Linked DNA regions of Homo sapiens. The protein of the gene in region 2 purifies or fractionates together with the protein of the main gene of each other region. This does not show direct contact. Each region holds a gene or a part of one and is shown on either strand. Other genes may lie near its edges. The genes, in order: ADCY3, SLC27A5, GRAMD1A, TMEM201, NUP155, SPTLC2 and SEC24B.

Evidence for each region.
Region 1: the proteins of SLC27A5 (region 2) and ADCY3 purify together in Homo sapiens (affinity purification with mass spectrometry; one large-scale study listed by BioGRID and IntAct). This does not show direct contact.
Region 3: the proteins of SLC27A5 (region 2) and GRAMD1A purify together in Homo sapiens (affinity purification with mass spectrometry; one large-scale study listed by BioGRID and IntAct). This does not show direct contact.
Region 4: the proteins of SLC27A5 (region 2) and TMEM201 purify together in Homo sapiens (affinity purification with mass spectrometry; one large-scale study listed by BioGRID and IntAct). This does not show direct contact.
Region 5: the proteins of SLC27A5 (region 2) and NUP155 purify together in Homo sapiens (affinity purification with mass spectrometry; one large-scale study listed by BioGRID and IntAct). This does not show direct contact.
Region 6: the proteins of SLC27A5 (region 2) and SPTLC2 purify together in Homo sapiens (affinity purification with mass spectrometry; one large-scale study listed by BioGRID and IntAct). This does not show direct contact.
Region 7: the proteins of SLC27A5 (region 2) and SEC24B purify together in Homo sapiens (affinity purification with mass spectrometry; one large-scale study listed by BioGRID and IntAct). This does not show direct contact.

What each region holds. Positions count from the first base shown.
Region 1 is NC_000002.12:24,913,535-24,917,612, reverse strand, and holds part of ADCY3 (adenylate cyclase type 3), read left to right. Parts: intron 1-4,078.
Region 2 is NC_000019.10:58,501,759-58,505,836, forward strand, and holds part of SLC27A5 (long-chain fatty acid transport protein 5), read right to left. Parts: intron 1-4,078. UniProt on the Homo sapiens protein: May mediate the import of long-chain fatty acids (LCFA) by facilitating their transport across cell membranes. Also catalyzes the ATP-dependent formation of fatty acyl-CoA using LCFA and very-long-chain fatty acids (VLCFA) as substrates.
Region 3 is NC_000019.10:35,016,831-35,020,908, forward strand, and holds part of GRAMD1A (protein Aster-A), read left to right. Parts: intron 1-2,360; coding exon 2,361-2,479; intron 2,480-2,560; coding exon 2,561-2,703; intron 2,704-4,078. UniProt on the Homo sapiens protein: Cholesterol transporter that mediates non-vesicular transport of cholesterol from the plasma membrane (PM) to the endoplasmic reticulum (ER).
Region 4 is NC_000001.11:9,605,541-9,609,618, forward strand, and holds part of TMEM201 (transmembrane protein 201), read left to right. Parts: intron 1-2,016; coding exon 2,017-2,249; intron 2,250-4,078. UniProt on the Homo sapiens protein: Critical regulator of angiogenesis and endothelial cell (EC) migration. Promotes the migration of endothelial cells, which is essential for angiogenesis.
Region 5 is NC_000005.10:37,297,965-37,302,042, reverse strand, and holds part of NUP155 (nuclear pore complex protein Nup155), read left to right. Parts: intron 1-492; coding exon 493-606; intron 607-2,474; coding exon 2,475-2,595; intron 2,596-3,064; coding exon 3,065-3,175; intron 3,176-4,078.
Region 6 is NC_000014.9:77,515,549-77,519,626, reverse strand, and holds part of SPTLC2 (serine palmitoyltransferase 2), read left to right. Parts: intron 1-1,459; coding exon 1,460-1,589; intron 1,590-4,078. UniProt on the Homo sapiens protein: Component of the serine palmitoyltransferase multisubunit enzyme (SPT) that catalyzes the initial and rate-limiting step in sphingolipid biosynthesis by condensing L-serine and activated acyl-CoA (most commonly palmitoyl-CoA) to form long-chain bases.
Region 7 is NC_000004.12:109,461,029-109,465,106, forward strand, and holds part of SEC24B (protein transport protein Sec24B), read left to right. Parts: intron 1-1,872; coding exon 1,873-2,616; intron 2,617-4,078. UniProt on the Homo sapiens protein: Component of the coat protein complex II (COPII) which promotes the formation of transport vesicles from the endoplasmic reticulum (ER).

The DNA.
Region 1 (4,078 bases), on a different chromosome or scaffold from region 2:
CTGGAGCACGCTTTCTACTGGAAGGGGTGGAATTTCGGCCTCAGCTTAACTATTATAGTATTGTGTTCCCACCAAGTGCCAGGCCCTCAGGGGCTGCAGAGACCAGGGGACCTGAGGGACAGTAGGCAGTGTGTGTCCCTGGGGAGCCAGCAAGCCGGTGACCAGAGAATGAGGCGGAGATGTCTGCATCTGGGTTTGGTGCCCAGCCTGCCAGCCTCGTGCCAATGATGGTCAAGAGAGGCTCCCCCACTTCCTGCCCCTGCAGTGCTCTGTCTGGTAGAGATGTCTTAACTCCCACGCCAGCTCTGTTCTGTGGTTAGTGGGGCTGGGGTAGAGTCAGCTCTGAAGCGGTGACCTTCTGGGTGTCAGGAGAGGCAGGGCGTGCCCAGAATCCTTGCTGACTGACGTGAGCCTCTAGCAGCCATGGAGGTCAGTGCCTGGGTCCTGGAGACCAGGTGCTATGTGCAGGCCCAGGGTGGACAGACAGAATCTTCCACTCCTCTGCTGATTTCTCCACTCATGTCTCATCCTGCTGATTTGTTCTAGAAATGGGTAGAGGATGTTAACATAGGCAGGGCCTGGCAGGGCATCTAGCCCAGACTACCCATTTTACAGAGGAGGAAACAGAGATGAGTGATAACTGGTTCACTGTCACCCAGCACTTTGGTGGCAGAAACAGGACGGGAGCCCAGGCATTGACCCCCAGCCCAGGGCTCATTTGTGTATGTTCCTTGGAGCACTGAGAGCTGCCTGAGAGCAGGAGCTTTGCTTCCCACCCCACCTCCTGGAGACAGTGGCTATGTGCTGCCCTGCCGTCCCCACCCCAAATCTCTGTAGAGGGGGCTGTGAGTTTCTGGTCATTGACTAGGTGGAAACACCAGTCATATCTCTTCAGGCCATGCATTAGCCAGTCCCAGGTTCTTTTTTTTTTTGAGACGGAGTCTTGCTTTGTTGCCAGGCTGGAGTGCAATGGCGCGATCTCAGCTCACTGCAACCTCCGCCTCCCAGGTTCAAGCTATTCTTCTGCCTTAGCCTCCTGAGTAGCTGCGATGACAGGCACGCGCCTCCACGCCTGGCTAATTTTTGTATTTTTAGTAGAGACAAGGTTTCACCATGTTGGCCAGGATAGTCTCGATCTCTTGACCTCATAATCCGCCCGCCTCGGCCTCCCAAAGTGCTGGGATTACAGGCGTGAGCCACCATGCCCAGGCATCCCAGGTTCTAAGGTCTGAGGTCTGAGGATGACTGGTCTCTCTAGCTCCATCTCCTCAGGTGGACAAGGAGCTTATTTTGAGGCTCCTGGAGCTTCCAGGGAAAAGGACTGAGAAGGTATGGCCACAGGGCTGGGCCGGGGCCTGGGTGCCCCACCACGTGGCTACTCGGAGATCACTTCTAAACTCATGATTGTTCTCCTTTGAGTATTGCTAAGACATAAAACCCTAAAACTTAGAAAACAGAAAAAAAAAGATAGAAATCAAGAATAAAAATATTAGCATCCCAGGGGAGCCTGACCTTGGCATGCAAGCAGTGCCTGGGAGGCAGCTTTGGGAACAGAGCAGGAGGGGCAGAGAGCTCTCAAGGTCCGATTGGGAGCCTGAGATCGAAGGCAGGAGGCCCCAGCTTACAGTGGGCTGTGTTCCAGAAGCTTCTGAGTCACTGGTTTGGGACTAATGTGACTTTTTAAAAGGTGCCTGGGTTCCCAGGCCCACCCACCAGGGTCTTCCTCAACTCACAGCATCCCGGCATTTGGCCTCTGAAGATGGTGGAAATGGGGCCGGGCATGGTGGCTCATGCCTGTAATCCCAGAACTTTGGCAGGCTGAGGCGGGCGGATCACCTGAGGTCAGGAGTTCAAGACCAGCCTGGCCAACATGGCGAAACCGCATCTCTACTAAAAATACAAAAATTAGCCAGGTGTGATGGGGCGTGCTTATAATCCCAGCTACACAGGAGACTGAGGCAGGAGAATCACTTGAACCTAGGAGGCAGAGATTGTAGTGAGCCGAGATCGCACCACTGCACTCCAGCCTGGGCGACAGAGTGAGACTCCATCAAACAAAAACAAAAACAACAAAAAACACAAGCTGCAGCAGCCTGTGTTGCTGTGGGGAGGGACACCCGGGACAGCGGTCTCCCCTGAGCCCTGGAGTGAGGTGTCATTCATCTCCCCTGCTGCCGTTGCCTCCTGGGATGTGGGCCCCATCAAGGATCGGGGGCAAGGGCTGGAGGACAGGATGCAAGAACCAGGGGACCAGGCCCCTTCTGGTCAGGGTAGGTCCCAGAACTTTCTCCAGACCCCAGGCACCGCCTTTCTCCTACCCATGTGCTTGCCCTTGTCTTTCTCTCTCCCATCCCCTGTCGGCTCTGGCTGGGGACTCCCTCCAGGGTCAGTGGGGGATGAACGCAGTTTCCCAGTTCGAAATAGACACCTGGATTTCTGGGTTCTTGTGAGTTTTGTGGTTTTGTTGCTGCTGTCACTGGCAGCATGAAGAAGCATTGCCAGTGTCAAAAGTCTTCTTCCTCTGCAGCCCTTATCCCCCCATGCCCATGCGCAGCTCTGTGGGGAAGGACAGAAGGTACACATGGGGCTGTTGGCAGCCTGAGAGGTCAGAGGCCAGCCAGACAACCTGTCCTGGGCTCCTCGCAGGAGGCCAGTGGGTGGGGTTCTGACAGGAAGAGCAGGTGATCAGGGAGTGTGGGATGGGGTGGGGCTGGGGCCCCACCAATGAGTTAATGAGTGAATATTGCCGAGCAGCATGGGCCTTGCAGCCTGCAAGGTCAGGGGATAAGGAGGATGAGGCCATCTGACACTCAGGCTGTGCTGGGGCGGGGAGGATGTTCTGAGAGCCACCTTGGGTGGGCAGAGACCTAGCCAATGGTTCTCACGACCCATCCTCTAGCCCCTGCCTGTCCCCCATTCCTTTTTTTTTTTTTTTTTGAGACAGAGTTTCATTCTTATTTCTGAGGCTGGAGTGCAATGGCACAGTCTTGGCTCACTGCAACCTCCTCCTCCCGGGTTCAAGTGATTCTGCTGCCTCAGCCTCCCAAGTACCTGGGATTACAGGTGGCCGCCACCACGTCTGGCTAATTTTTTTGTATTTCTAGTAGAGACAGGATTTCACCATGTTGGCCAGGCTGGCCTCGAACTCCTGACCTCAGATAATCCGCCTGCCTTAGCCTCCCAAAGTGCTGGGATTACAGGTGTGAGCCGCTGTCCAGAGGAGGGAACAGAGGACGAAACAGAGATGGGTGATAACTGGTTCACTGTCACCCATCACTTTGGTGGCAGAAACAGGACGGGAGCCCAGGCGTTGACTCCCAGCCCAGGGCTCATTTGTCTGTGTTCCATGGAGCACTGATTGCTGCTCCATGGGTCCCCCATCCCAAGAGGCAACACAGGCCCAGAGCAGCCGGAAGGGAGGACAGATGGATCAGGAGGAGCCGAGGCTGGCAGTGTTTGCCCATTTCGCTCCCCTGGCCTGGGTCCTGCCCCAGGACCTGTTACGGAATTACTTGCCCTTTACTGCCCTAAACTGCCCCTGGGCTGGGTGAGGAGGAAGGAGGGGACTGGGCTCAGGACCAGGACCTGCAGGACCAGCGGCCAATGAGTGCGGACAATGGGGAAGGCAGCCAGGATGGTTGGGGGTGGTGGTGGGCGGGGCGTGCCTTTAGCATTTGGCAAAGTAGGGACTAGGAACTGCTGACAAATATTTTGTACCCTTACTTCAGAGCAGAAAGGCTATTTGGGAGCAAAATTCTCTCATGGAATGAAGAGCCTGTTAAGACCTTTTTTCACCAAGTAAAACATGAGGAAGCTGTGGATGTGCAGTTTCTTTCACACCTGCAAATTACACAGCAATCATTCACCCAGCAAAGGAACATTTGCTCCTAGGGGCTGGAGGGAGCTGCCGTAGGGAGGGTGAGAGGAAACTGAGGCTTCCAGAGACACCCTGTCTGCAGACGGCAGGTAGCTGTTGCATGCACCTCATCCCATTTAATCCTGGATGTTACTGGCTCCATTTCACAGATAAGGGGACTGAGGCTCAGTGAGGTTGAGAGGAGGTAGTGGGGCTGGATTA
Region 2 (4,078 bases):
TCCCTCCCGGGTTCAAGCGATTCTCCTGCCTCAGCTTTCTGAGTTGCTGGGATTACAAGCACCCGCCACCACAGCTGGCTAATTTTTGTACTTTTTTAAGTACAGACGGGGTTTCACCATGTTGGCCAGGCTGGTCTTGAACTCCTGACCTTTCAGGTGATCCACCCGCCTCGGCCTCCAAAGTGCTGTGATTACAGGCATGAGCCTCTGTGCCCAGCCACATTTTTAATTTTTATTTTGGCTTGTCACTGACTCGAAGCTCAAATCACTCTTGATTACGATAAATGAATGCCCAGCTAAGCAGATGGGTGGGCAGGTGGATGGATATGGTGGATGGATGGAAAGATGAATGGATGGACAGTTAGAGTAGTGAGTGAGTAGATGGGTGGGTGGACAGAGTAGTGAGTGAGTAGATGGATGGGTGAACAGTTAGAGTAGTGAGTGAGTAGATGGATGGGTGGACAGTTAGAGTAGTGAGTGAGTAGATGGATGGGTGACAGAGTAGTGAGTGAGTAGATGGATGGGTGAACAGTTAGAGTAGTGAGTGAGAAGATGGATGGGTGAACAGTTAGAGTAGTGAGTGAGTGGATGGATGGGTGGACAGTTAGAGTAGTGAGTGAGTAGATGGATGGGTGGACAGAGTAGTGAGTGAGAAGATGGATGTGTGGACAGTTAGAGTAGTGAGTGAGAAGATGGATGGGTGAACAGAGTAGTGAGTGAGTAGATGGATGGGTGAACAGTTACAGTAGTGAGTGAGAAGATGGATGGGTGAACAGTTAGAGTAGTGAGTGAGTGGATGGATGGGTGGACAGTTAGAGTAGTGAGTGAGTAGATGGATGGGTGGACAGAGTAGTGAGTGAGAAGATGGATGTGTGGACAGAGTAGTGAGTGAGAAGATGGATGGGTGAACAGTTAGAGTAGTGAGTGAGTAGATGGATGGGTGGACAGTTAGAGTAGTGAGTGAGTAGATGGATGGGTGGACAGTTAGAGTAGTGAGTGAGTAGATGGATGGGTGGACAGTTAGAGTAGTGAGTGAGTAGATGGATGGCTGGACAGTTAGAGTAGTGAGTGAGTAGATGGATGGGTGGACAGTTAGAGTAGTGAGTGAGTAGATGGATGGCTGGACAGTGACATGCAGAGGCAGGGGGGTAGAAAGATGGATAGGTGGCTGGGTGAGGATCGTCACGCCTGTAATCCCAGGACTTAGGGAGGCCGAGGTGGGCGGATCACGAGGTCAGGAGATCAAGACCATCCTGGCTAACACGGTGAAACCCGTCTCTACTGAAAATACAAAAAATTAGCTGGGCGTGGTAGCGGGCGCCTGTAGTCCCAGCTACTCGGGAGGCTGAGGCAGGAGAATGGCGTGAACCTGGGAGGCGGAGCTTGCAGTGAGCCGAGATAGCGCCACTGCACTCCAGCCTGGGCGACAGAGTGAGACTCTGTCTTAAAAAAAAAAAAAAAGAAAAAGAGAAAGATGGATAGGTGTAAGGATGGATAGATGGGTGGGTGGATGAATGAATGAATGAGTGAGGAAGTAGGTGAGTAGGTAGATGGGTGGGTTGGTGAATGTTTGTATGGTTGTATTGACGTATGGACACATGGATTAATAAGATATAGGGGGCTGGGCGTGGTGGCTCACACCTGTTATCCCAACACTTTGGGAGGCTGAGGGGGGTGGATCACCTGAAAGATCAGGAGTTTGAGACCAGCCTAGCCAACATGGTGAAACCCTATCTCTACCAAAAAATGCAAAAATTAGCCAGGCGTGGTGGCGCACACCTGTAGTCCCAGCTACTCGGGAGGCTGAGGTGGAAGAATCGCTTGAACCCAGGAGGGGGAGGCTGTAGTGAGCCGAGCTTACACCACTGCACTCCAGCCTGGGTGACAGAGTGAGACCCTGTCTCAAAAGAAAAAGAAAAAAACTGAATCTAACAACACCTCTAGTTAAAGTTTCCAATTTAACAAGAAATGCAGATGAAAGGGGAACAGAGACCTACAAGCAAATACAATGGGGAGACTGTTTAATTGTTAAAAACAAACAAACAAACAAACAAACAAAAAAACAGCCAATTGGCTGGGCACAGTAGCTCACACCTGTAATCTCAGCACTTTGGGAGGCCAACGTGTTCAGATCACTTGAGGCCAGAAGTTCAAGACCAGACTGGCCAACAGGGCGAAACCCTGTCTTTACTAAAAATACAAAAAAATTAGCTGGGCATGGTGGTCCACACCTGTAATCACAACTGCTCAGGAGGATGAGGCATGAGAATCGTTTGAACCCAGGAGGCAGAGGTTGTAGTGAGCCAACATCACACAACTGTACTCCAGCCTGGGTGACAAAGCAAGACTCTGTCTCTAAAAACAAAACCAAACCAAAACAGCCCATTGGAGAAATCTGAACATAGACTGGACATCATATGATATTAAGGGGTTACATCATATGATATTAAGGACATCATATGATATTAATGTTGTTACGTGTAATAATCACTTTGGTTACAGTTTCTTCAGTGCTTATATGTTAGAGATATGTACTGCAATATTTACAAGCATAAAGATGCAGTGTCTAGGATTTGCTCTGATATATTCTGGAAAAAAATAGGGAAGTGGCTGGGCACGGTGGCTCACGCCTGTAATCCCAGCACTTTGGGAGGCCGAGGCAGGTGGATCACCTGAGGTCAGGAGTTTGAGACCAGCCTGGCCAACATGGCGAAACCCTGTCTCTACTAAAAATACAAAAATTAGCCGCTTGTGGCGGTGCGTGCCTGTAATCCCAGCTATTCAGGAGGCTGAGGCAGAAAACTGATTGAACCCTGGGGGGGGGGGGGGGGCGGGCGGGGCGGAGCTTGCGGTGACCCAAGATGGTGCCACTGCACTCCAGCCTGGGCGACAGAGCGAGACTCTGTCTCAAAAACAAACAAACAAACAAAAAAGAAACAGGGAAGTACATGTGAAATTAAACTGGCCCTGGGCGCGGTGGCTCATGCCTGTAATCCCAGCACTTTGGGAGGCCGAGGCGGGCGGATCACGAGGTCAGGAGATTGAGACCATCCTGGTGAACACCGTGAAACCCTGTCTCTACTAAAAATACAAAAAAAATAGCCAGGCGTGGTGGCGGTCACTTGTAGTCCCAGCTACTCCGGAGACTTAGGCAGGAGAATGGCATGAACCCAGGAGGCGGAGCTTGCCGTGAGCAGAGATTGCGCCACTGCACTCCAGCCTGGGCGACAGAGCGAGACTCCATCTCAAAGAAAAAAAAAAAAAGAAATTAAACTGGCAGCATGTTAACAATTATTGAAGCTGGGTGAAGATACCTGAGATGTCATCAAACTATTTTCACTTTTTTTTTTTTTTTTTTTTGAGACAGAGTCTCGCTTTTTGCACAGGCTGGAATGCAATGGCTAGATCTCGGCTCACTGCAACCCCTGCGCCCCGGGTTCAAGCGATTCTCCTGCCTCAGCCTCCCTGGTAGCTGGAAATACAGGCGCCCACCACCATACCCAGCTAATTTTGTATTTTCAGTAGAGACAGGGTTTCACCATGTTGGCCAGGCTGGTCTCAAACTCCTGACTTCAGGTGTTCCGCCGGCCTCAGCCTCCCAAAGTGCTGGGATTACAGGCGTGAGCCACCATGCCCCGGTAATTTTTGTATTTTAGGTAGAGACGGATTTTGCCATGTTAGCCAGGCTGATCTTGAACTCCTGACCTCAGGTGATCCACCAGACTCATCCTCCCAAAGTGCTGGGATTACAGGCGTAAACCACTGGGCACAGCCTAAACTTTTCATAATTAAAAAAACAATTTGGCCGGGCGCAGTGGCTCACGCCTGTAATCCCAGCACTTTGCGAGGCTGAGGTGGGCGGATCACCTGAGGTCGGGAGTTTGAGACAAGCCTGACCAACATGGAGAAACCCCATCTCTACTAAAAACATAAAAAAAAATTAGCCGGTCGTGAGGGCACATGCCTGTAATCCCAGCTACTTGGGATGCTGAGGCAGGAGAATCGCTTGAACCCAGGAGGCAGAGGTTGCAGTGAGCCGACATCGCGCCATTGCATTCCATCCTGGGCAACAATAGTG
Region 3 (4,078 bases), about 23 Mb from region 2:
GGAAGCAGAGGTTGCAGTGAGCCAAGATCGTGCCGTTGCGCTCCAGCCTGGGCGACAGAGCGAGACTCTGTCTCAAAAAAAAAAAAAAAAAAGGTGGGAGGAGGGCCAAGGTGGGAAGTTCATGTCAGCCCAGAAGTTGGAGACCAGCCTGGGCAACATAATGAGACTCAGTCTTTACAAAAATAAAAAAAAAAATTAGCTGAGCATGATGCTGCCCACCCGTAATCCCAGCTACTCTGGAGGCTCAGGTGAGAGAATTGCTTGAACCCAGGAGGTGGAGGTTGCAGTGAGCCAAGATCATGCCACTGCACCTCAGCCTGGGTGACAGAGAGAGACTCCATTAAAAAAAAAAATGCTCCTGAGGCCTCCCCAGAAGCCGAGCAGATGTCGGCATCATGCTTCCTATACAGCCTGTGGAACTGTGAACCCATTAAACCTCTTTTCTTTATAAGTTACTGAGCCTCAGGTATTTATAGTAATGTAAGAATGGCCTAATACAGAGCTCCTCAGCCTGACACGCCAGCCCTTTTAGGACATAAGCATAGTTTTGGGGGCCTTGTAGCCCCCCAACACAAGGCACCATCTTCCTGACTGCAGGGGATACTGCATGTCTCATCAATACAGAAAAAGAAACAAAGAGAAACTCCCATCTGACACGCTCCTCCCCTGCTTGAATCTCTTTTGTAGCCTCCCAAGTTCCTTGGCTGGTCCCATGTCAACCCTTCAGCCTCACCCAGAGCTGTGGCTGCCCCTCTCCATACCTGGCTGCCCCATCCCAGCCTCAGGGGACTTCTCTCAATATTGGCCTCCAGCCTCAGGGCCTTTACTGGTATCACGCGGCCTCCTGGGCTCCTCTGCCCCGACCCCTTCCTTCCTCAGTTCCTCCTTCAGGCCTTGGTTTTGATTTCACATCCTCCTGGCAGCCTTCCCTTACCTTCCTCAGATCCCAGATACCCCCAGATACTCACAGCTTCTGCCCTTAACTCACACCATGCCAGTAGTGTGTGGTTTTTATTTATAGATATTTCCTGTTGTTCTCAAGAGATTCTGGGTGCTAAGGACAGGAGTTCATCTATCCTGGTCTCCCACTGGCCTCCAAGCCCTGCATAGGCCTGACAGAGTGGACATTAAATTTGTGATCATTAACACATATTTATTTATTTATTTATTTATTTTTGAGTCAGGTTCTTGCTGTCGCCCCAGCTGGAATGCAGTGGCACAGTCTTGAGTCACTGTAGCCTCTGCCTTCTGGGTTTAAGCCATTCTCCTGCCTCAGCCTCCTGAGTAGCCGGGATTATAGGCGCCCACCGTCACGCCCAGCTAATTTTTGTATTTTTAGTAGAGACGGGGTTTCACCGTGTTGGCCAGGCTGGTTTCAAACTCTTGACCTCAGGTGATCCTCCTGCCTCGGCCTCCCAAATTTCCCGAAGTGCTGGGATTACAGGCGTGAGCCACTGTGCCCGGCTGCCTCAGGGAGCTTTTGATCATGCTGAAAGGCAAAGGGGGAGCAAGTGAGAGAGAGTGGAGGGGAGGTGCCACACACTTAAATGACCAGATCTCGGAAGAACTCACTATCATGAAGACAGCAGCAAACCATGAGGGATCCGCCCCCATGATCCAAACACCTCTCACCAGGCCCTACCTCCGGCATTGGGGATTACAATTCAACATGAGATTTGGGTGGGGACAAATATCCAAACTATACCAAACTCAGACTCTGTTCTAGGGGTACTGGGGAGCCATGGAGTGTTCTAGGCAGAGAAGGGATAGAGTCAGGCTTGGCTTTAACAAGATGCCCCTGGACCAGATGGGGAGACTGAGGCCAGACACTCAAGGGAAGGCTGGCAGGGGCACTGGGCAGGCAAAGATGGGCTGAACCAGGAGTGACGCTCAGGAGGTTTGGTGAACACACAGTGTAGGTAACCATCTAGGGGTTTGAGTAGGGGGTGTCCAGGGCAAGGCCTACCGCTCCAGTGGGAGCCTGGAGGACCCTGGGCCACCCCTGAGTGGGGGCCTGGGAGATGCAGCAGGTTTGGGGAGATGCTGAGGCTGTGTGGAGCTCGGTGGGTTCGAGGGGTCCAGGGACCTTCCAGGGGAAGGTGTTCAAAAGATTACAGGTCCAATGCTCAGGGCAGAAGCCAAGACGGGTGCAGAGGGGGAAACTGAGGCTGCAGCAGTGGAGGAGATGGCCCTGCCCCAACAGCTAAGGTTTTAGGCTCCTGGAAGGAAGGTGGGGACACAGAGGAGTGGTGGGGATTGGGACAGGTCCCCAGAGAGACCTCCCAGAAGGCTGAGTCTCCTGTGGCCTGTGGGCAAAGGACTGGGGTGTGGCCTCCTCATGCTGCTCCTCCCTCCTCTAGACGTGACGCTGAGCCCCTGGAGTGGGGACAGCAAGTGCCACCAGCGCCGGGTGCTGACGTACACCATCCCCATCAGCAACCCACTGGGCCCCAAGAGCGCCTCCGTGGTGGAGACACAGGTGGGCCAGGTGGGGCAGCCGAGTGGGTGGGGCAGCTGGGTGAGTGGGGTGGCCCTGACTTCTCCGGCTCTGTCCCTGCAGACGCTGTTCCGGCGCGGCCCCCAGGCCGGCGGGTGTGTGGTGGACTCCGAGGTGCTGACGCAGGGCATCCCCTACCAGGACTACTTCTACACTGCCCACCGCTACTGCATCCTGGGTCTGGCCCGGAACAAGGCGCGGCTCCGGTGAGTGGTGGCTGGGCCCCTCCACCCGATGCCCTGGTGGCCCCAGGGCCTCCTGTCCACTCCTCAAGTCAGCAGCAGAGCCTTGGTTCCCACCCTGGTGGAGGAACAGAAGCGTGGGGTTCCTGAGGCCCTTGTCCTCCGAATAGTGGAGGGTAGAGGAAGAGTGGCCCTGGGATGGCTCCTCCCATCTACAGAGGGTGTTTGAGCCTCAAGACTCTGAGGATACAGCAAAGCCAGGCAATATCACCTCTCTCAGGGAGCTCATATTCTAGTGGGGAATTGGACAATAGAGAAATGATCAGGAAAATCTGCAGAACATTCACTGGCAGTTAGGCCTATGGAGAAAAATGAGGAAAACACGGCAGGCTAAAGAAGCAGGGTGTGGAGGCTTTTACACCCGACACGCTGGTCAGGGAAGGGCCTACTGGGAAAGAAATGTTTCACCAAGAACCTGAAGGAGCTGAGAGCAACTCATTTGGGACAGCAGGTGCAAAGGCCCTGAGGCAGGGGTGTGGGCAATGGCTGGAGTGGAGTAAGATTGAGTGAGTAGGAGCTGAGATTAAAGTGGTGAACCGGGGCCCGGCACAGTGGCTCACACCTGTAATCCCAGCACTTTGGGAGGCTGAGGCAGGAGTATCACTTGAGCCCAGGAGTTCAAGAGTAGCCTGGGTAACGTACGGAAGCCCTGTCTCTACAAAAACAATTTTTTTTAAATTAGCCAGGGTCCAGGTGCAGTGGCTTACGCCTGTAATCCCAGCAATTTGGGAGGCTGAGGTGGGCGGATCACTTGAGGTCAGGGGTTCGAGACCAGCCTGGCCAACATGGTGAAACCCATCTCTACTAAAAATACAAAAATTAGTCGGGGGTAGTGATGCACGTCTGTAATCCCTACTACTTGGGAGGCTAAGGCACAAGAATCACTTGAACCTAGGAGGTGGAGGTTGCAGTGAGCCGAGATCGGGCCACTGCACTTCAGCCTGGGTGACAGAGTGAAACTCTGTCTCAAACAAACAAACAAACAAACAAAAAACAAGTTAAAAAATTAGCCAGACATGGTGGAGATTTCAGTGAGCCATGATCACACCGTTGCACTTCAGCCTGGGCGACAGAGCAAGACCCTGTCTCAAAAAAAAAAAAAAAAAAAAAAAGGTGAACCAGATGTGGCTCATGGTGAAGACTTGACTTTACCTGGAGTGAGGTGCAACCAGGCCAGGGCTCTGAGCCAGGAGGGCGCTGACCTGACTCAGGTGGTCCCAGGCTCCTTCTGGCTCCCTCTGTTCTGGTGGGAACAGACTGCAAAGACAGGTACAGGAGCAGGGAGGCCAGGGAGGAGGCTGCTGGGACATCCAGGCTGGAGGGGACGGAGGCTGAATCA
Region 4 (4,078 bases), on a different chromosome or scaffold from region 2:
CGCTGGGGCGCCTGTACAGAGCCCAGCCCCTCATGCCCAGCCCTGTGAGCGATTTACGAGGTCTTGCTGGTTGAGTGATGTTCCCACATATCACAGTGAGGGAGTCAAACTGCGAAGGAACTCCCCACAGCACCATCTTCAGTGGCACCAAACTGGGAACAACAGCCCCTGTGCCAGGTGGCCAGGAGATTCAGCCTTTAAGCACTGAGGCAGCCCCGGGTGGTGTGAGCAGGAGCTGGGAGGAGTGGGGATGCACTGGCAAGACCCAGCCACTCCTGCTAGAGCCCACCCTTTGGGGCCAGGAGCTGCGTGGCCCAGCTGACCACCTCATACCCACAGCCCACTAGGACCCTCCTTTCACACATCCCCCAACGGTACTCTCAGGTCACTGGGGGACCTGGTCACCCTTGGCTGACTCTTGGCTATGTCTGTGCTGCCGGGCAGGGTGGGCACAGGAAGCCTAGCGCAGAGCCCTGCCCCACAAACTCCCTCCCATGGAGGGTCATGCCCCAAGGTCCCAGCAACACCTTCACTGCCCCTGCCTAAAGGTGCCCTCAGGGTCATTCCCTGAAGTCGCTGCGCTGTCCCGCCAAATGGAATCAGAATTCTAACATGACGACACAAAACCTCATCTTCTGTGTAGAGGTGGAGCCTTCCCTGGAGTCTTGGGGGCAAGCAGCGGGCGCTGGGCCTGGGAATCACAGGTCAGCAGGCGGAACAAGGATGTGTCCAGTCCGGCTGACCGGGGCCTTCCCCAGGGTCCCCAGCTCAGCTCCTGCCTTGATGCCCACATTCGCCAAACATGGCCTCGCCTTTGGTTCTGAAGTCCAGGTGGTCTCCTGGCACCTTGGAAGGCATTAGAAAGGTTACATGATTCTCCGGGAAGTCAAGAGCTGGCCCCACACTTTCCTTATAAAACTTTTTTAGAGGGAAAGTAGCAGGGAGGTTGGTGGCGCGCGGCTTGGCTAGCGATCCCCGAGCATGCAGTCATGCTGGGCGCAGGTCCCTTAAGCAGCCCCCGGCTCCTGCAGGGCGTGGGCCAGCCTGCCCGCTCACCAGCACGTTGTCCACTGGGCTCATTTGTCCCTTGGCACCGAGGTAAGGCTGGACCCCCGGAGCTCCGTCCAGACGGTGGACTAATGTATTAACTGCCTCTGTCCCTCTCTTCCCTCTGTAATTGGGTGCCTTAATCAGAAGCATGGTTGACGTTCTGGCGTGGGGCCATCAGGTCCTGTTGTGTGATTTGTACCATCTCGAGTTAAAGAGACACTGTCACCTTCCGTCTTTCGGGCAGCCTTGCGGTCGTGGATGGGTCTCTTCTAAGTTCGGTTTTGGCGTTGTCCTGTGAGAGCCTCTTCCAGGGGGTTCCAAGGCCTGGCTGCCCCCCAGTTCTGCTCTACCAGGAACTTCAGAGGAGTTTCCAGAGTGCAAGGCCAGAGAGCAGGAGGCAGCCTTCTAAGGGCAGAGCTGTGGGAGGACTTCCAGGAATCACACCTGGGAACAGAGGGTGCCCAGAGCCGTGCTGGGGCCTGACTTCCTATGATCCAGGCCCATCTGGGAGATGAGCCAGGATGTCCCTGAGCCCGGCCGCTCTGTGGGAAGGCTCGGCACAGAACAAGAAGTGGCAAGGAGTCCAAGTCCATTAACCTTCATTGAGTGCCTGGCACGGGGCTGGGCATTTTTGCTTCAAGGCGAAAGGGTTGGCATGAGGTTGGCAAAGGCGACAGTGTCACTTTAATACCGAGACTCGTAGTGGAGATAGTTTGCTGTGAGCCGAGGGGGTAGGAGGGGGCATGTGGGGAGGGCCGGGTCTTGCTGGCACCTCCCAGCCACCCGCTCCTAATGGCGTGAATGTGGTCGGATTGCTTTTCTGCTTTAACTAACGCACGCCTCCTCTGGGACCCCAGCTGAGGCCCCCACCTTGCACTGTGGGAGAGGGGTGGGACCCACTGCAAGGCTGCCTCCAGGACCTCCCGCTGACCCTCTTCTTGTCCCGTGCCTGACGGGCCCTTGCAGGTTCTTCCCAGGAGACTCTGCCGGCCTTTTCCCCACCAGCCCCAGCTTGGCCATCCCTCACCCGAGTGTCGGAGGCTCTCCAGCGTCTCTGTTCATCCCCAGCCCGCCCAGCTTCCTGCCCCTCGCCAACCAGCAGCTCTTCCGGTCTCCTCGACGGACCTCACCCTCCTCATTGCCTGGCCGCCTCAGCCGGGCCCTCTCTCTGGGAACCATACCCTCTCTGACTCGAGCAGGTAAGGGGTGCCCAGGCATTGGCAGACAGTCAGGGCTAGGGGCAGCTGGGACAGAACTGTGGATGGGTACATAGTGTAGGGAGGGCCGGGAGTGGTTAGTGTTCCTGCTGCAGAGACAGGCAGCACAGAGCTTTGAGCCTCAGTTCCCCCCAAAGAAATGGGGCTAGCTAGGAATAGGTGGCTCATGCCTTTAATCCCAGCACTTTAGGAGGCCAAGGTGGGAGGATGGCTTGAGGCTAGGAGTTCAAGACCAGCCTGGGCAACATAGGGAGACGCTGTCTCTACAAAAAAAGTTGTTTTAATTAACTGGGCATGGTGGCGTACACCTATAGTCCCAGCTATTTAGGCTGAGGTGGGAGGATCGGTTGAACCCAGGAGTTGGAAGCTGCAGTGAGCTATGATCACGCCACTGCATTCCACCATGGGCAACAGAGCAAGACCCTGTCTCAACAAAAATAAAAATAAAGTGCCCAGAATTGCCATATCATCTGGGAGCCCCAGCACGGCCCCTTAGTCCCAGCTCTGGTGACATGACCTTGGGTAAATGTGTGCACCGTGCTGTGCCCTAATCTTTTCCTCTAAAATTGCAACATGCCCCTCAGCAAAGGGGGCCACTCTAGTTATTCTAGGGGAGGAGATGCTGATAACAGCCAAGGCCCCTCTCCTCTCGTGCAGTTACAGGGCAGGCCATTTTGTACACACGCCAAGGTTTATATTAGGATGCTTTTGCTTTTCCCCTAAGCAGAGATACCCCCCTATTTTCAGGGCACCCCAGCCTGGTGGCACTTGAATGGAACTTGGGGTGGGAGGTGCCAGGAGCAGCCCTGCCCTGGGCCTGAGCACTCCGAGTAAACTCTGTGCGCACTGACCAAGGTGGCAGAGCTCAGGGACTTCTGTTTCAAGCCCCTTGGGAGGGGAGCGTGGCAATCCCAGGGCCAGTTCAGGCCTCCAAGGCAGGGGCTCCTGCCCACAGAGAAGAACAGGCAATCTCCCTGTTAAGGCTCAAGGCAGGGACACAGTAGCGACCTGTCTGAGGTAGCAGCAGAGGTCTTGGGGCGCAAGCTTGTCTTGGAGTGTCCGGTGACAGATGGGACCCCAGTCTCCATTACCAGAGTGGGTCGGGGGGAGGAGCCCGGTCTCCATCGCCAGAGGGTGGGTCGGGGGCAGGAGTTCCTGCAGGGCTTTGGCTCATGTATTCAGAGACGCGCTGGACCGGGCTCAGGTGCTGTGGCCAGAATCCAGCTTGCTGTCTCCCTGTCTGTCCTCAGTCCGCTTCTCTGCCACACACCTCATCCCTGTGTCCTGCAGCCCATGCCCAGCAGGAAGACGGCCTCTCCCAGCATCCATAGAATGGATTCTAGAAGGACCCTGGTTGGCATGCTGGGTCCTTGTGACCACCCTTATCCAGCCTATCCCCTGGCCTGGTGAGGGGAGGGTTATCTGCATGCTGCAACAGACCCTTCAGAGCCCACAGGTGGCAACAGGACATGAGGCAGTCCCTGGGTCCCACATTCAGCTCTCAGCCAGCCACTTGGAATTGGGGCCCCTGCCCTTGGGGTGCGTGCGCCTGATTTAGGAAAAGGCAGCGTGGTTGGTGATCCCTGGGATCGAGAGAACAGGCAGTTGGGGTCTGCAATTAGTGGAGAAAGTGGGACTAGATGGCTGGAAAAGCAGGCCCTTCTGTGGGAAGAAGGGCATGGAACGAGGAGTGGACAATATGCCCAGTGCCGACTCTTCTCACCACCTGCTGTGAGCCTCAAGTTTCTTCCTGACCTCGTGATCTGATCTGCCTACCTCAGCCTCCCAAAGTGCTGGGATTACAGGCATGA
Region 5 (4,078 bases), on a different chromosome or scaffold from region 2:
CCTGATTGGCAGCTGGCTTTCCTCCGTGTGGTTGATTTAGGAACCCAAGTTCTATTTTCTGGCACTACCATTCCCTAGGGCCTCTGCTTTATCTTCAGCAGAGGGTGGAAGGAAAAGAAAGAACACATTCACTGTCTTAAAAACTATAGCCCTGACATGACACACTACTTCTACTCACATTCCTTTGAAGAGAACTTGGTTGTATGGCCATACCTCCCCTACAGAGGAGGCTGAGCTGTATAGTCTAACCATTTGGCTACAGTCTTGGAAGGTATAAGTATTGGGCAGCAAGGAGTCTGCCACAGTATACTTCCTGTGAAATCTATTATGTTTAGTTGATGTCTGTTATGATAATATTAGCCTATTATGATAGAAATCTTCATTTATACATTATTTTAGCAAACTTAAAGTCAGATAGTAGGATCCGTTCTTTCAAACGTATGTTGATTTATCATAAATAAATTAAGACATCCTGTTTTCTGCCCAAACTAGGTTGCTAGGATCCAACTTCAGATACAGGAGACACTACAAAGGCAGTATTCCCATCATTCTTCTGTACAGGATGCAGTTTCTCAGCTGGATTCTGAGCTGATGGACATAACTAAGGTAATAAAAAAGCAAGTGAAATTTTTATAGTAGTTACCTAATAATGAGAAATTTTTGTTTTTTATTTTGCTTTTTGTTTCATGGGGAAAATTACCTTATCTCCACAAATAAGATAAGGCATCTTTGGCAGCTTGTCACTGGGCTGACAGATCACCACTGCTTCATCTGACTCCTAGAAAAAGGCTAAGCTACTCTTTCCAGGCCAGTAGCTACAAAGAACCTATCATCCTCGCATGAGAGCTGTGTTAAAACCAGCTTATTTCCAGCCTGGGCAACATGGCAAAACCTCATCTTTACAAAAAAATAGCAAAAAAGGCCAGGCACTGTGGCTCACGCCTGTAATCCAACACTTTGGGAGGCTGAGGCGGGCAGATCACCTGAGGTCAGGAGTTTGAGACCAGCCTGGTCAACATGGGGAAACTCTGTCTCTACTAAAAATACAAAAATTAGCCAGGCGTGGTGGCATGCGCCTGTAATCCCAGCTACCTGGGAGGCTGAGGCAGGAGAATTGCTTGAACCCAGGAGGTGGGGGTTTCAGTGAGCCGAGATCATGGCACTGCAGTCTAGGAGCCTGGGCGACAGAGCAAGACTCCATCAAAAAAAAAAAAAAAAAATTAGCCAGGTGTGGTGGTGTGTGGTTGTAGTTCATCTACTCAGGAGTCTGAGGTGGGAGGATTGATTTAGCCCAGGAGGCCCAGGTTGTGGTGAGCCTCGATGGTGCTACTGCATTCCAGCCTGAGTGACAGAGTGAGACCCTGTCTCAAAAAGAAAAAAAAACTAAAAAACCAAAACCATCTTATTTATGGCCTCGCTTCTTGCCTTGGAAAAACTAACTTATCTTTGCTTAACTCTCTAAACCTCTTTCTCTCTCTGTAATTTTCTGAGCAGTTCCTTCCTCTTCATTTATTCTTAGACATAGTTCCAGGTACCCTGAAACACTTTGAGATTTGTCAGTATTCCTGTGATTCTTCAACCCATTGTTTATACAACACTAGTTCTAAAATACCATTGCAGGAGGTTTGTAGGGAAGGTGGGGATGGTTAATGGGTACAAAAACAAAATGAATAAGACCTATCTGATAGCACAATAGGGTGACTATAGTCAATAATAACTGTATATTTTAAAATAGAGAATGTAATTGGATTATTTGTAACTCAAAAGGATAACTGCTTGAGGAATAGACATTCTCCATGACATGCTTATTTCTCATTGCATGACTGTATCAGAACATCTCATGTACCCCATAAATACATACACCTACTGTGTACCCACAGAAATTTGAAAAAATGAATTTTAAAATTAATAAATAGAATGTCGTTGCAACATCTTCTTCCCAGCCAAGAAAAAAGCTCTACATGCTAAAATGTGTTTGAATGTATTTACCATACCCTTACCCTTTTTTTTTTTTTTTGGCGGGGGGAGACAGAGTCTTTCTCTGTCACCAGGCTAGAGTGCAATGGCGTGATCTCAGCTGACTGCAACCTCCACCTTCCTCAGCCTCCTGAGTAGCTGGGACTACAGCCATGCACCACCATGCCCAGCTAATTTTTTTTTTTTTTAAATTTTAGTAGAGACGGGGTTTCACCATATTGGCCAGGATGGTCTCCATCTCCCGATCTCGTGATCCGCCCACCTTGGCCTCTTAAAGTGCTGGGATTACAGGCCTGAGTCACCGTACCCGGCCCATACCCTTAACTTTTTAAATATGGAGTTATAACCAGCTACATACATCATCACATCTTTATATCATATTTCAGAAACTTTATGTAAAATCTTTGGTTATTTTTTAATTTTCAAGGAGTGCTTCACTATTAATCTCTGAATGTTGATCTCTAGTTGGATGTTAATTTTGGGATTTTCTCTCACAGCTTTATGGGGAATTTGCTGACCCATTTAAACTTGCAGAGTGCAAACTTGCAATAATTCATTGTGCCGGTTATTCAGACCCTATATTGGTGCAGACACTTTGGCAAGATATCATAGAGAAAGGTAAGTGTTCAGTTATAGGTATGTTAGCATACGTTATGTAGTGACTTGGTGGAGGAATGCAAGCTGCTAGTAACTAATATAATGCAAGCTGCTAGTGGCTCATGAAAATTGTGTATACCTAAGAAGAGAGTAAGTGGAAGTCACCTGGGTATGGTGGAGGATGATCATACACAGAATGACCCAAGTGAATATTCGGGAGAATACTCAGTGAAAAGGTTATTTAATTTATATTATTTGTGCTGCCTTATAAAAGATACTGAGACACTCACCTCAGAATCTAATAACCAGTATAACCTGGTAAGACATGAGAGTATCTCAGACAATAACAGAAACACCAAATCTGTTAATCATATTAATGTGACTATCTGTTCTAAAGTATTTTGAACCTTGAAACAGAATTAAATAACCAATGTAAACATTTCACATTAAAAGTAATTTGGGTTTCAAATGACATGTCTTTTTGTTACAGAATTGAGTGACAGTGTGACATTGAGCTCCTCGGATAGAATGCATGCTCTTAGTCTCAAGATTGTTCTCCTTGGCAAAATTTATGCTGGCACACCACGCTTCTTTCCTTTAGGTAAGCTGTGATCTTAGGTGCAGTCACGTATTTTCTGTTCTGATGGTTTTCTCCGTTGATATGGACAAATAACGATCTTTCGAGTAAAATAAAGAGTTTCTTTGCTATTTAGTTCAGCACTTTAATTCTGCCTCTCCGGAAAGACTTCCAAAGAATGGCAGAATTTGTTAATGAAGAGTTGAGTATGAAACTTTCTGTGACTAACTTTCCAAGTTTATATTACCTGTCTTAGGATTGTGCTGACTGACAAACTATGATTATATTGTTGGTAACCCTATACAAGTTTCTGAAGAGAAAAGAAAAACGGTTGATGTTTTTGTGCATAGGTAATCTGTGATTGATTCAACTGTTCTTTTTTTATGTTGAGGGCATGTTTTTCTTTAAAATAGCAAATAATTATGTTAAAACTTAGTGTTTGAATCCCTTTCTTAATGAGATATGGTGGCTATAATTTTTAAATAAGGTAGCTAATTATGAGCTATTTGCCAACCTACAAGTGTTTTCCTCAGTGGTAAAACAATAGAAGCAACATAAATACATCCATAAATTAGAATATCAACTACTTTTGTGTTATTTAAAAATATTGAGAGACATGAAAATCCTCACAATATAACTTTTTTTTTTTTTTTTGAGACAGAGGCTTTCTCTGTCGCCCAGGCTGGAGTGGAATGATGCCATCTCGGCTCACTGCAACTTCTGCCTTCCAGGTTCAAGCAGTTCTCCTGCCTAGCCTCCCAAGTAGGTGGGATTACAGGTGCCTGCAACCACGCCTGGCTAATTTTCTGTATTTTTATTAGAAATGAGGTTTCCCCATGTTGTCTAGGCTGGTCTCAAACTCCTGGCCTCAGGTGATCCGCTTGCCTTGGCCTCCCAAGGTGCTGGGATTAAAGGCGTTCGCCACTG
Region 6 (4,078 bases), on a different chromosome or scaffold from region 2:
TGTGCTTCCGCCTCCCCAGTAGCTGGGATTACAGATGTGTGCCACCACACCTGGCTAATTTTTGTATTTTTTAGTGGAGATGGGGTCTAACCATGTTGGCCAGGCTGGTCTCCAACTCCTGACCTCAGGTGATCTGCCCGCCTCGGCCTCCCAAAGTGCTGGGATTACAGGCACGAGCCACTGGCCCGGCCACATTTTTTTATTCTCAAACAAATGCTGTAAACAGCTTAAAGGAAAAGTTGAAACATAAGGGAGGTCAATAAGAGGAAAAGACAAAAAGCAACATAATTTGGGCCAGGCACAGTGGCTCACACCTGTAATCCCACTTTGGGAGGCCGAGGTGGGTGGATCACAAGGTCAGGAGATCGAGACCATCCTGGCCAACATGGTGAAACCCCGTCTCTACTAAAAATACGAAAATCATCTGGGTGTGGTGGTGCACACCTGTAATCCCAGCTGCTCGGGAGGCTGAGGCAGGAGAATTGCTAGAATCTGGGAGGTGGAGGTTATGGTGAGCCAAGATCGTGCCACTGCACTGCAGCCTGGCGACAAAGCGAGAGACTCAAAAAAAAACCCACATAATTTAGTAGACAAAATTAACTAAAAGTTAGAATGTGTTATTTAGACAAGATACAGATGTGGAGTAAGGCCACAGGGCCTCCAATTTGGCTTACGATAGGGGTGGGGGATTGTTAAATACGAATTGTGTGGTCTGAGTAATCAGCTGAAGCCAGCGGGTGAACTGGCCTGACAGACACCAAAGGAAGCCCTGAATTCTGAAGCAGTGTTGTTCCCAAGACAATTAAAGAAACGTGTGATCTGGAGAGCTCATGCCAGTCAGCCATTCTGCTAGCAGAAAAGATGTGCCGTGTTACAGCAGATCCCCCACAGCTGCAGAATCCTCAGAATTTGCGGATTAATGTTAAACTGCCAAGCTTAACATTTCAAGGACCAGATTTTAATTAAATACAGGTTCATTTTGAAGCCTCTGAACCACTATTACATATCAGGGACACTTTTTTTTTTTTTTGAGACAGAGCCTTGCTCTGTTGCTCAGGCTGGAGTACAGTCGTGTGATCTTGCCTTACTACAGCTTCTGCCTCCAAGCTTCGAGAGATTCTCATGCCTCAGCCTCCTGAGTAGCTGGGACTACAGGTGCATGCCACCACACATAGCTAATTTTTTGTATTTTTGGTAGAGACGGGATTTCACCATGTTGCCCAGGCTGGTTATTTCAGTTTTGTGAAGGACACCATATAGGAGAAGACTGCTTTAGGATTGACTTTAAAAGTATTTGTGAGCTGTCAATTTTAACTTTAAAAGGAGTTAAAGGAAACTCCTATTAGAAGTCTCCAATGCCTGCATCACCAAAGAGTTGAAATCTTTGAGGACAGCAGGTCCTCTGTAATGAGTGCTTTTTCACTCCTCCTGGTTTCTGTTCTTGTTTTCCCCTTTGCAGCGCCTTTGGACGGGAGATGCTGAAGCGGAACATCGGTGTCGTTGTGGTTGGATTTCCTGCCACCCCAATTATTGAGTCCAGAGCCAGGTTTTGCCTGTCAGCAGCTCATACCAAAGAAATACTTGATACTGTAAGTAGGCACTTTCACCTTGATATAAATATGCCTTTTATTAAAAGGGCCTGTATATTAGATGAAATTCATAATATATTGATCTTGATGTTCTTGTGAGCACCTAAGACAGAGGGGGTGACAGTGCTACCAAAAACATTGGCATTTACAAAAAAACTGTCACCCACCACACCTGCATCATGAGAGCTCTGGAGAATTTTCCGGCTTTGTCTTGCTCTACTGTCTCCCTCACTATGGACTCTACAATTCTCTTTCCACTCTAGCTATTTCTACATTAAGCTTTCTCATATGTTGTTCTGTCTAAAATTTTCTCTCTTGAGCTTTCTCTCCCCTCTGCCTGGCTGACTGCCACTCATTCTTCACATCTCCATTTAAAGGAAAATTGCTCAGGGGCGCCCCACACCTTCTTGCTCTGTGTTCCCTTGGAATCCTGAGATTCTCCCTTACTAAATTCTTCACACCTATAATTATTTAATAGCAGTCTTCTCCATTAGATAAATATTGAGGATAGGAATAAGTCTGTTTTACTGATTCTATATCCCAGCACCCACCACACTGCCAGGCATCTAGTTGGGGATCATTATTACTAAGCTTAATTATTTATTATCTCAAGATATTCTCATCTCTATATATTCTCTTAATATGTTATTGTTGCAAGTCTAAGATTTCAGAGTTTAAATCATTATTGCCATCTGGGAGTTTATAAAGCTTTAGAACATGACATTTGCATAAAATTAGTTGCTAGAAATATCCATTAATGAGTTAGAGAGCTACTAATTTTTTTTTTCTTTTTTGAGAGAGAGTTTTGCCCTTGTTGCCCAGGCTGGAGTGCAATGGCGTGATCTCAGCTCACCACATCCTCTGCCTCCTGGGTTCAAGCAATTCTGCCTCAGCCCCCTGAGTAGCTGGGATTACAGGCATGCGCCACCATGCCCAGCTAGTTTTGTATTTTTAGTAGAGTCAGGGTTTCTCCATGTTGGTCAGGCTGGTCTCGAACTCCCGACCTCAGGTGATCCGCCTGCCTCAGCCTCCCAAAGTGCTGGGATTGCAGGCGTGAGCCACTGCCTGGCAAGAGCTACTAATCCTAAAGAACATTATGAATGCTTCTTTATAAAAGTTAATTATAACAATTTGATGGACATTTTGTATTCCTGAATAGCCGAAGACTTGACTTTTCTTCTCTGTTTCTACACAGCAAAATTTCTATGAGTATAAGTGTATTCCCTTTTAAAAAACAAAATTGTAGTAAGAACACTTAACATGAGATCTGTCCTCTTAACAAATTTTTCCATGTCGAATACAGTATTGTTAACTATAGGCACAGTGTTGTGAGCATATTCTTAATTACATTCTGACAATATCCAATTAGATTCAACTTTTTGATATTGTATCTTTTTTTTCTTTATTTTGATTATGCCTGTCAGATTTTTCCAATGGATTTTTCTCATTTCTCAGAAATTTTACTGGTGAATTTCTGTGATGATTTTTTTTAACCTAGAGATTTCAGCTTTTCTTTCCTTCCTACTCTATTGATGTTTTAAGAATTTTCTTTTTTCTTTCTCATGTTCACCTGTTAACTCAGAATTTCAATGTGCCTTTAAAAAAAAGTCTGTGTAACTATAACCAGTGTCTATGGCAGTAATCCATGCCTTCTGACCACAACTTTGACTTCTGAGAACTGTACACATTCATGAAAGAATTTAGATGTAACCAGGATATCTCCTTAGGATATCTAAGGAGATTTCTGTTGCCAACAAGTATGTTTGCCAACTGAGAGTTCTAATCCTTTTCATAAGATTCTCTTGAGGGATTGTTGGGCTTTGCCTCCCATTTAGTTTTTTAAAGCATAAAGTGCATTTTTTGAAACCATGGATTTGTTAAAGTCATTTTGTCTTATGATGTTTTATGGAACTAAACGTGTACTAGACCATTATGAGATACAAATTAATTTTCATTTAATAATGGGCCTCATGACATGATTCTGTATATAGAAAGTGCTGTAAAATACACACACACACATGCGCGCGCGCGCACACACACACACACACAGCTAGAGCTCATAAATGAATTCATCAAAGTTGCAGGGTAAAAGATCAGCACACAAAAAATTAGTGCTTTTATACACCAGCAATGAACAAATGAAAAGAAAATTTCTTTTACAATTTTCAAAAGAAGAAAATACCTAGTAATAAACTTAAGAAAGCCTTTCCTGGCTGGGTGCGGTGGCTCACACCTGTAATCCCAGCACTTTGGGAGGTCAGGCGTTTGAGATCAGCCTTGCCAACACAGTGAAACCTCATCTCTACTGAAAATACAAAAAATTAGCCAGGCATGGTGGGGGGCACCTGTAATCCCAGCTACTCGGGAGACTGAGGCGGAAGAACCACTTGAATCTGGGAGGCGGAGGTTGCAGTGAGCTGAGATCGCACCACTGCACTCCAGCCCGGGCGACAGTGCGAGACTCTGTCTCAAAAAAAAAAAAAAAAAAA
Region 7 (4,078 bases), on a different chromosome or scaffold from region 2:
AGTAACCTGGGGGAAATACTTACAGCACATAACATTAGGCTAATTTTCTACTGTGTGAGAACAGCTAGAAATCATTAAGGAAATCGCAATGCTACAGAAAAAGCAAACAGCAGAGAAAGACACCCAAATGAGAGTCTCAGCATCATTCAAAGTTAACTACTGTAAACTAAAGTGTTTCTCACTTTTCAGATTGGCAGAGATTAATATATAGTCAGTATTGGGACAATGAGGCAATATGAAGCATTATTGATGGGAGGTATAAATTGATAGACCTTTTAAGAGATATTTGCCAATAATGTCAATTTTAAAAACATAAACCTTTTGAACTTCCAGTTTGACTTCTAGAAATTTGTCTTATAGCTTCATCATAAAAGTTGACCTCATAAATATAGATTAGTTCAACCCCAAGATATTCATCAATGGAGATTTGGTGAATAATGTTATATCTCTACAATAAAGTACTATATGTAAATTTTTAAAAGAATAATGAGGATTTATATATGCTAATACTTAAGGATATTCAGCATATATTAAGTAAAAGCAAGTTGCGGAACTGTAATATCCTTTTTGTGTGTTTAAAAAATCAAGTAAATTATATACATGCTTACATATGCATTACATAGATACATGGATATACAGAGGATGCATAAGCATTAACTGTAACTATATCTGGGAAATAGGATATAAGCTACTAGGCAGAGATTTTTAATTCATACTCTTTATTGTTTGAATTTTTTCTACAGTGGGTATATTGTTACTTTTCTAGTTAGGAAAAATAAAAACTGAGAAAAAAGTTTTAGCTGTGTGCAGTGGCTCATGCCTATAATCCCAGCATTTTGGGAGGTTGAGGGAGGAGAGTCACTTGACTCTAGGAGTTTAAGACCAGCCTGGGCACACAGTGAGACCCTGTCTCTACAAGAAAATAAATTTAGAAACATTGGCTGGGCCGTGGTGTATGGGAGACCAGCCTGGGCAACACAGTGAGAGCCTGTCTCTGTAAAAAATAAATAAGTAAAAATTAGCTGGTCACCATGGTGCACGCCTGTGGTCCCAGCTGCTCGGGAGGCTGAGGTGAGAAGATTGCTTGAGCCCAGGAGAACAAGGCTGTAGTGAACCATGATCATGCCATCGCGCTCTATAGCCATCACACTCTATAGAGCCTGGGGTCAGAGCGAGACCCTGTCTCAAAGTTTAAACTTCTTCCAGGATGGGTATATTAGTTACTGATAGCTGCATAACAAAATACCCCCTAAGCTTAACAACTTGTAAAACAACAACTATTTATTTCACAGTTTCTCAGGAAGATAAACTTGGGAGCAGCCTAGCTAGGTGGTTCTGGCTCAGGGTCTCTCATGAGATAACCTGTTGGCTGGGCTATAGTTATCTCAAGATTCTACTGAGTTTGGAGGATCTGCCTGAAAGCTCAGTCGTGGTTGTTGGCAGATCTTAGTTTCTCTTTGGCTGTTGGCCAGAGAGTTAAGTTCCTCCTTGCATGGGCTTCTTCATAGGGCTGTTCACGGCTTGGCAGGTTAGCTTCTTTCAGACTGGGGTATCTGAGAGAAAGAGAGCCAGAGCTCAAGACTGGGCTAACATGGAAGTGACATATCATCACCTTTGCCGTATGCTACTGTTCATACAGACCAGTCCTGGTACATTGTGAGGGAGGACTACAAGGGTGTGAATAACAGGAGGTGGGGATCATTGGGGGCCATGTTGGAGGCAGGCTACCATAATGGGTCTATAACAGTGTATACCTTTTGTAATAAGTTGGGATTATGGAAAAGAAAGTTAATTGCTTCAATATTTAAATGGGGGCTATTTTTAAAAATTAGTTATCTCTTTACAAATACCTGTAAATACTTGCTTTTTCAGGTCCAGCCCAGAATCAAATGCAGGTTCCATCTGGATATGGATTGCATCATCAAAACTATATTGCTCCCTCAGGACATTACTCTCAAGGACCTGGGAAAATGACCTCATTGCCATTGGATACCCAGTGTGGTGATTACTACTCTGCTCTCTATACAGTACCAACACAAAATGTGACTCCTAACACAGTGAACCAGCAACCAGGAGCACAGCAGTTGTACAGCAGGGGTCCTCCTGCCCCTCATATTGTGGGATCCACTCTAGGATCTTTCCAAGGTGCTGCATCGTCAGCATCCCATTTGCATACGAGTGCCTCCCAACCATACTCCTCTTTTGTGAATCACTACAATAGTCCAGCCATGTACTCTGCCAGCTCTTCTGTTGCGTCTCAGGGATTTCCCTCTACTTGTGGTCATTATGCTATGTCAACTGTTTCTAATGCCGCGTATCCTAGTGTTTCATATCCCTCTCTGCCTGCTGGTGATACATATGGGCAAATGTTTACCTCACAGAATGCTCCGACTGTTAGGCCAGTTAAAGATAATTCATTCTCTGGTCAAAATACAGCTATCAGCCATCCATCGCCACTTCCACCTCTACCATCACAACAGCACCACCAGCAGCAAAGTCTTTCAGGATACAGTACTCTAACGTGGTCATCTCCAGGCCTTCCATCGACTCAAGACAATCTCATCCGAAACCACACAGGATCCCTGGCTGTAGCGAACAACAACCCAACCATTACTGGTAGGTTGAATGAAAAGTTCACCAAAACATGTTTGAAAATCAGTGCATTCCCAATTAAGTTATTATTTACATGAAGGTTAGAGGTGATATTGCCTAATAGAAAAACTGGAAGTTTGCTAATTTATTGTGGCTTTTTGTAGCACCTCTTTGAACCCTTTCTTCTCATCCATTCCCAATTAGCCACCCAACCATCTGCCTTGTCTAGCTTGGTTCCTTGCCATGATCAGTCAACATTTATTGATATATTTTATACATCTGCAATAGTTGTCTTTAATGTGAATTAGATACAGGGCAAAATGGAAGGGTCTGTTTTGAGGATATGTTGGCCACTATTTTCTCTTTTATACTAGTTCAACCTTGGGACAGTTGTTTTTTTAGCCAGAGCCCCACTTACTTAGAAAAAAGGATGGTTTGCAGCAGTGCACTGGTTTCCCCAAGTTAGCCCCTATTAGTGACTTTTGCAGAAGACATCTTTCCTGCACGTAAACAGTGTTTCTCATTTTCAGATTAGTAAGTTAGGCTGAAAGATGGGGAAGGGAAAGGAAGATGCATGAAGAATACCCTGGTATTCAGCCCTTCTGACCTTCCTAAACCAAGGTGTTGTTAAATTTTTTCATTTAAAAATTATGTATGTAAGACGTGGCTTGCCCTTTTTTTTTTTTTTTGACACAGGGTCTCACTTTATCACCCAGGCTGGGCATGATCTCAGCTCACGGCAGCCTTGACCTCCTGGGCTCAAGCGATCCTCCCATCTCAGCCCCACAAGTAGCTGGGACTACCAGGCATACGCCACCACACCCAGCTAATTTTGTAGAGATGGGGTTTTGCCATGTTGCCCAAGCTGGTCTCGAACACGCGAGCTACTGTGCCTGGCCCAATGTGGCTTTTTAAGTGCAGTGTTTCCTTTCCCTAGGATATATTCATTTTAATTCAATTTGTGACTTGAATTTAACAGAATCTGCTTTTGAACCGAATGAAAATGCATGTAAAAAATGGGAATTGGTAAAGCTGTGGTAACTTTTGGAATGATGCCTTTAGATTGTGTATCATTATCTGGATAGCCATGTGTCAAAGATGCTGTGGAAAGATATCCTTCTCTGGACAATGAGATTATTTAAAATTAGAACTTTAATATTAGACCCAAGCTGTACATTTGAGATCATCTACTCTTTCATTGCTATGTCGTTTAGAAATGCTTTCAGATACAAGCAGCTAATAGTAGTTTAAACAAAAAGGGGGTATTTTCCTCACATCACAAGTCTAGGTGGATGCAGTGGATCCCGCTGTTCTTGGTATCCTTTTTTCTCTTTCCACTCTGCCACCTGCAGCATGTAGGTTATAGAAACAAGATACTTCTGTACCTATAGACATTAAGTCAGAATTAAAAGCACCAAGAAGGGAGAGGAAAGGGGACTGGTTAGTGGCATTGACAGACTTCATTTTACAGATCATTTGCCATAGC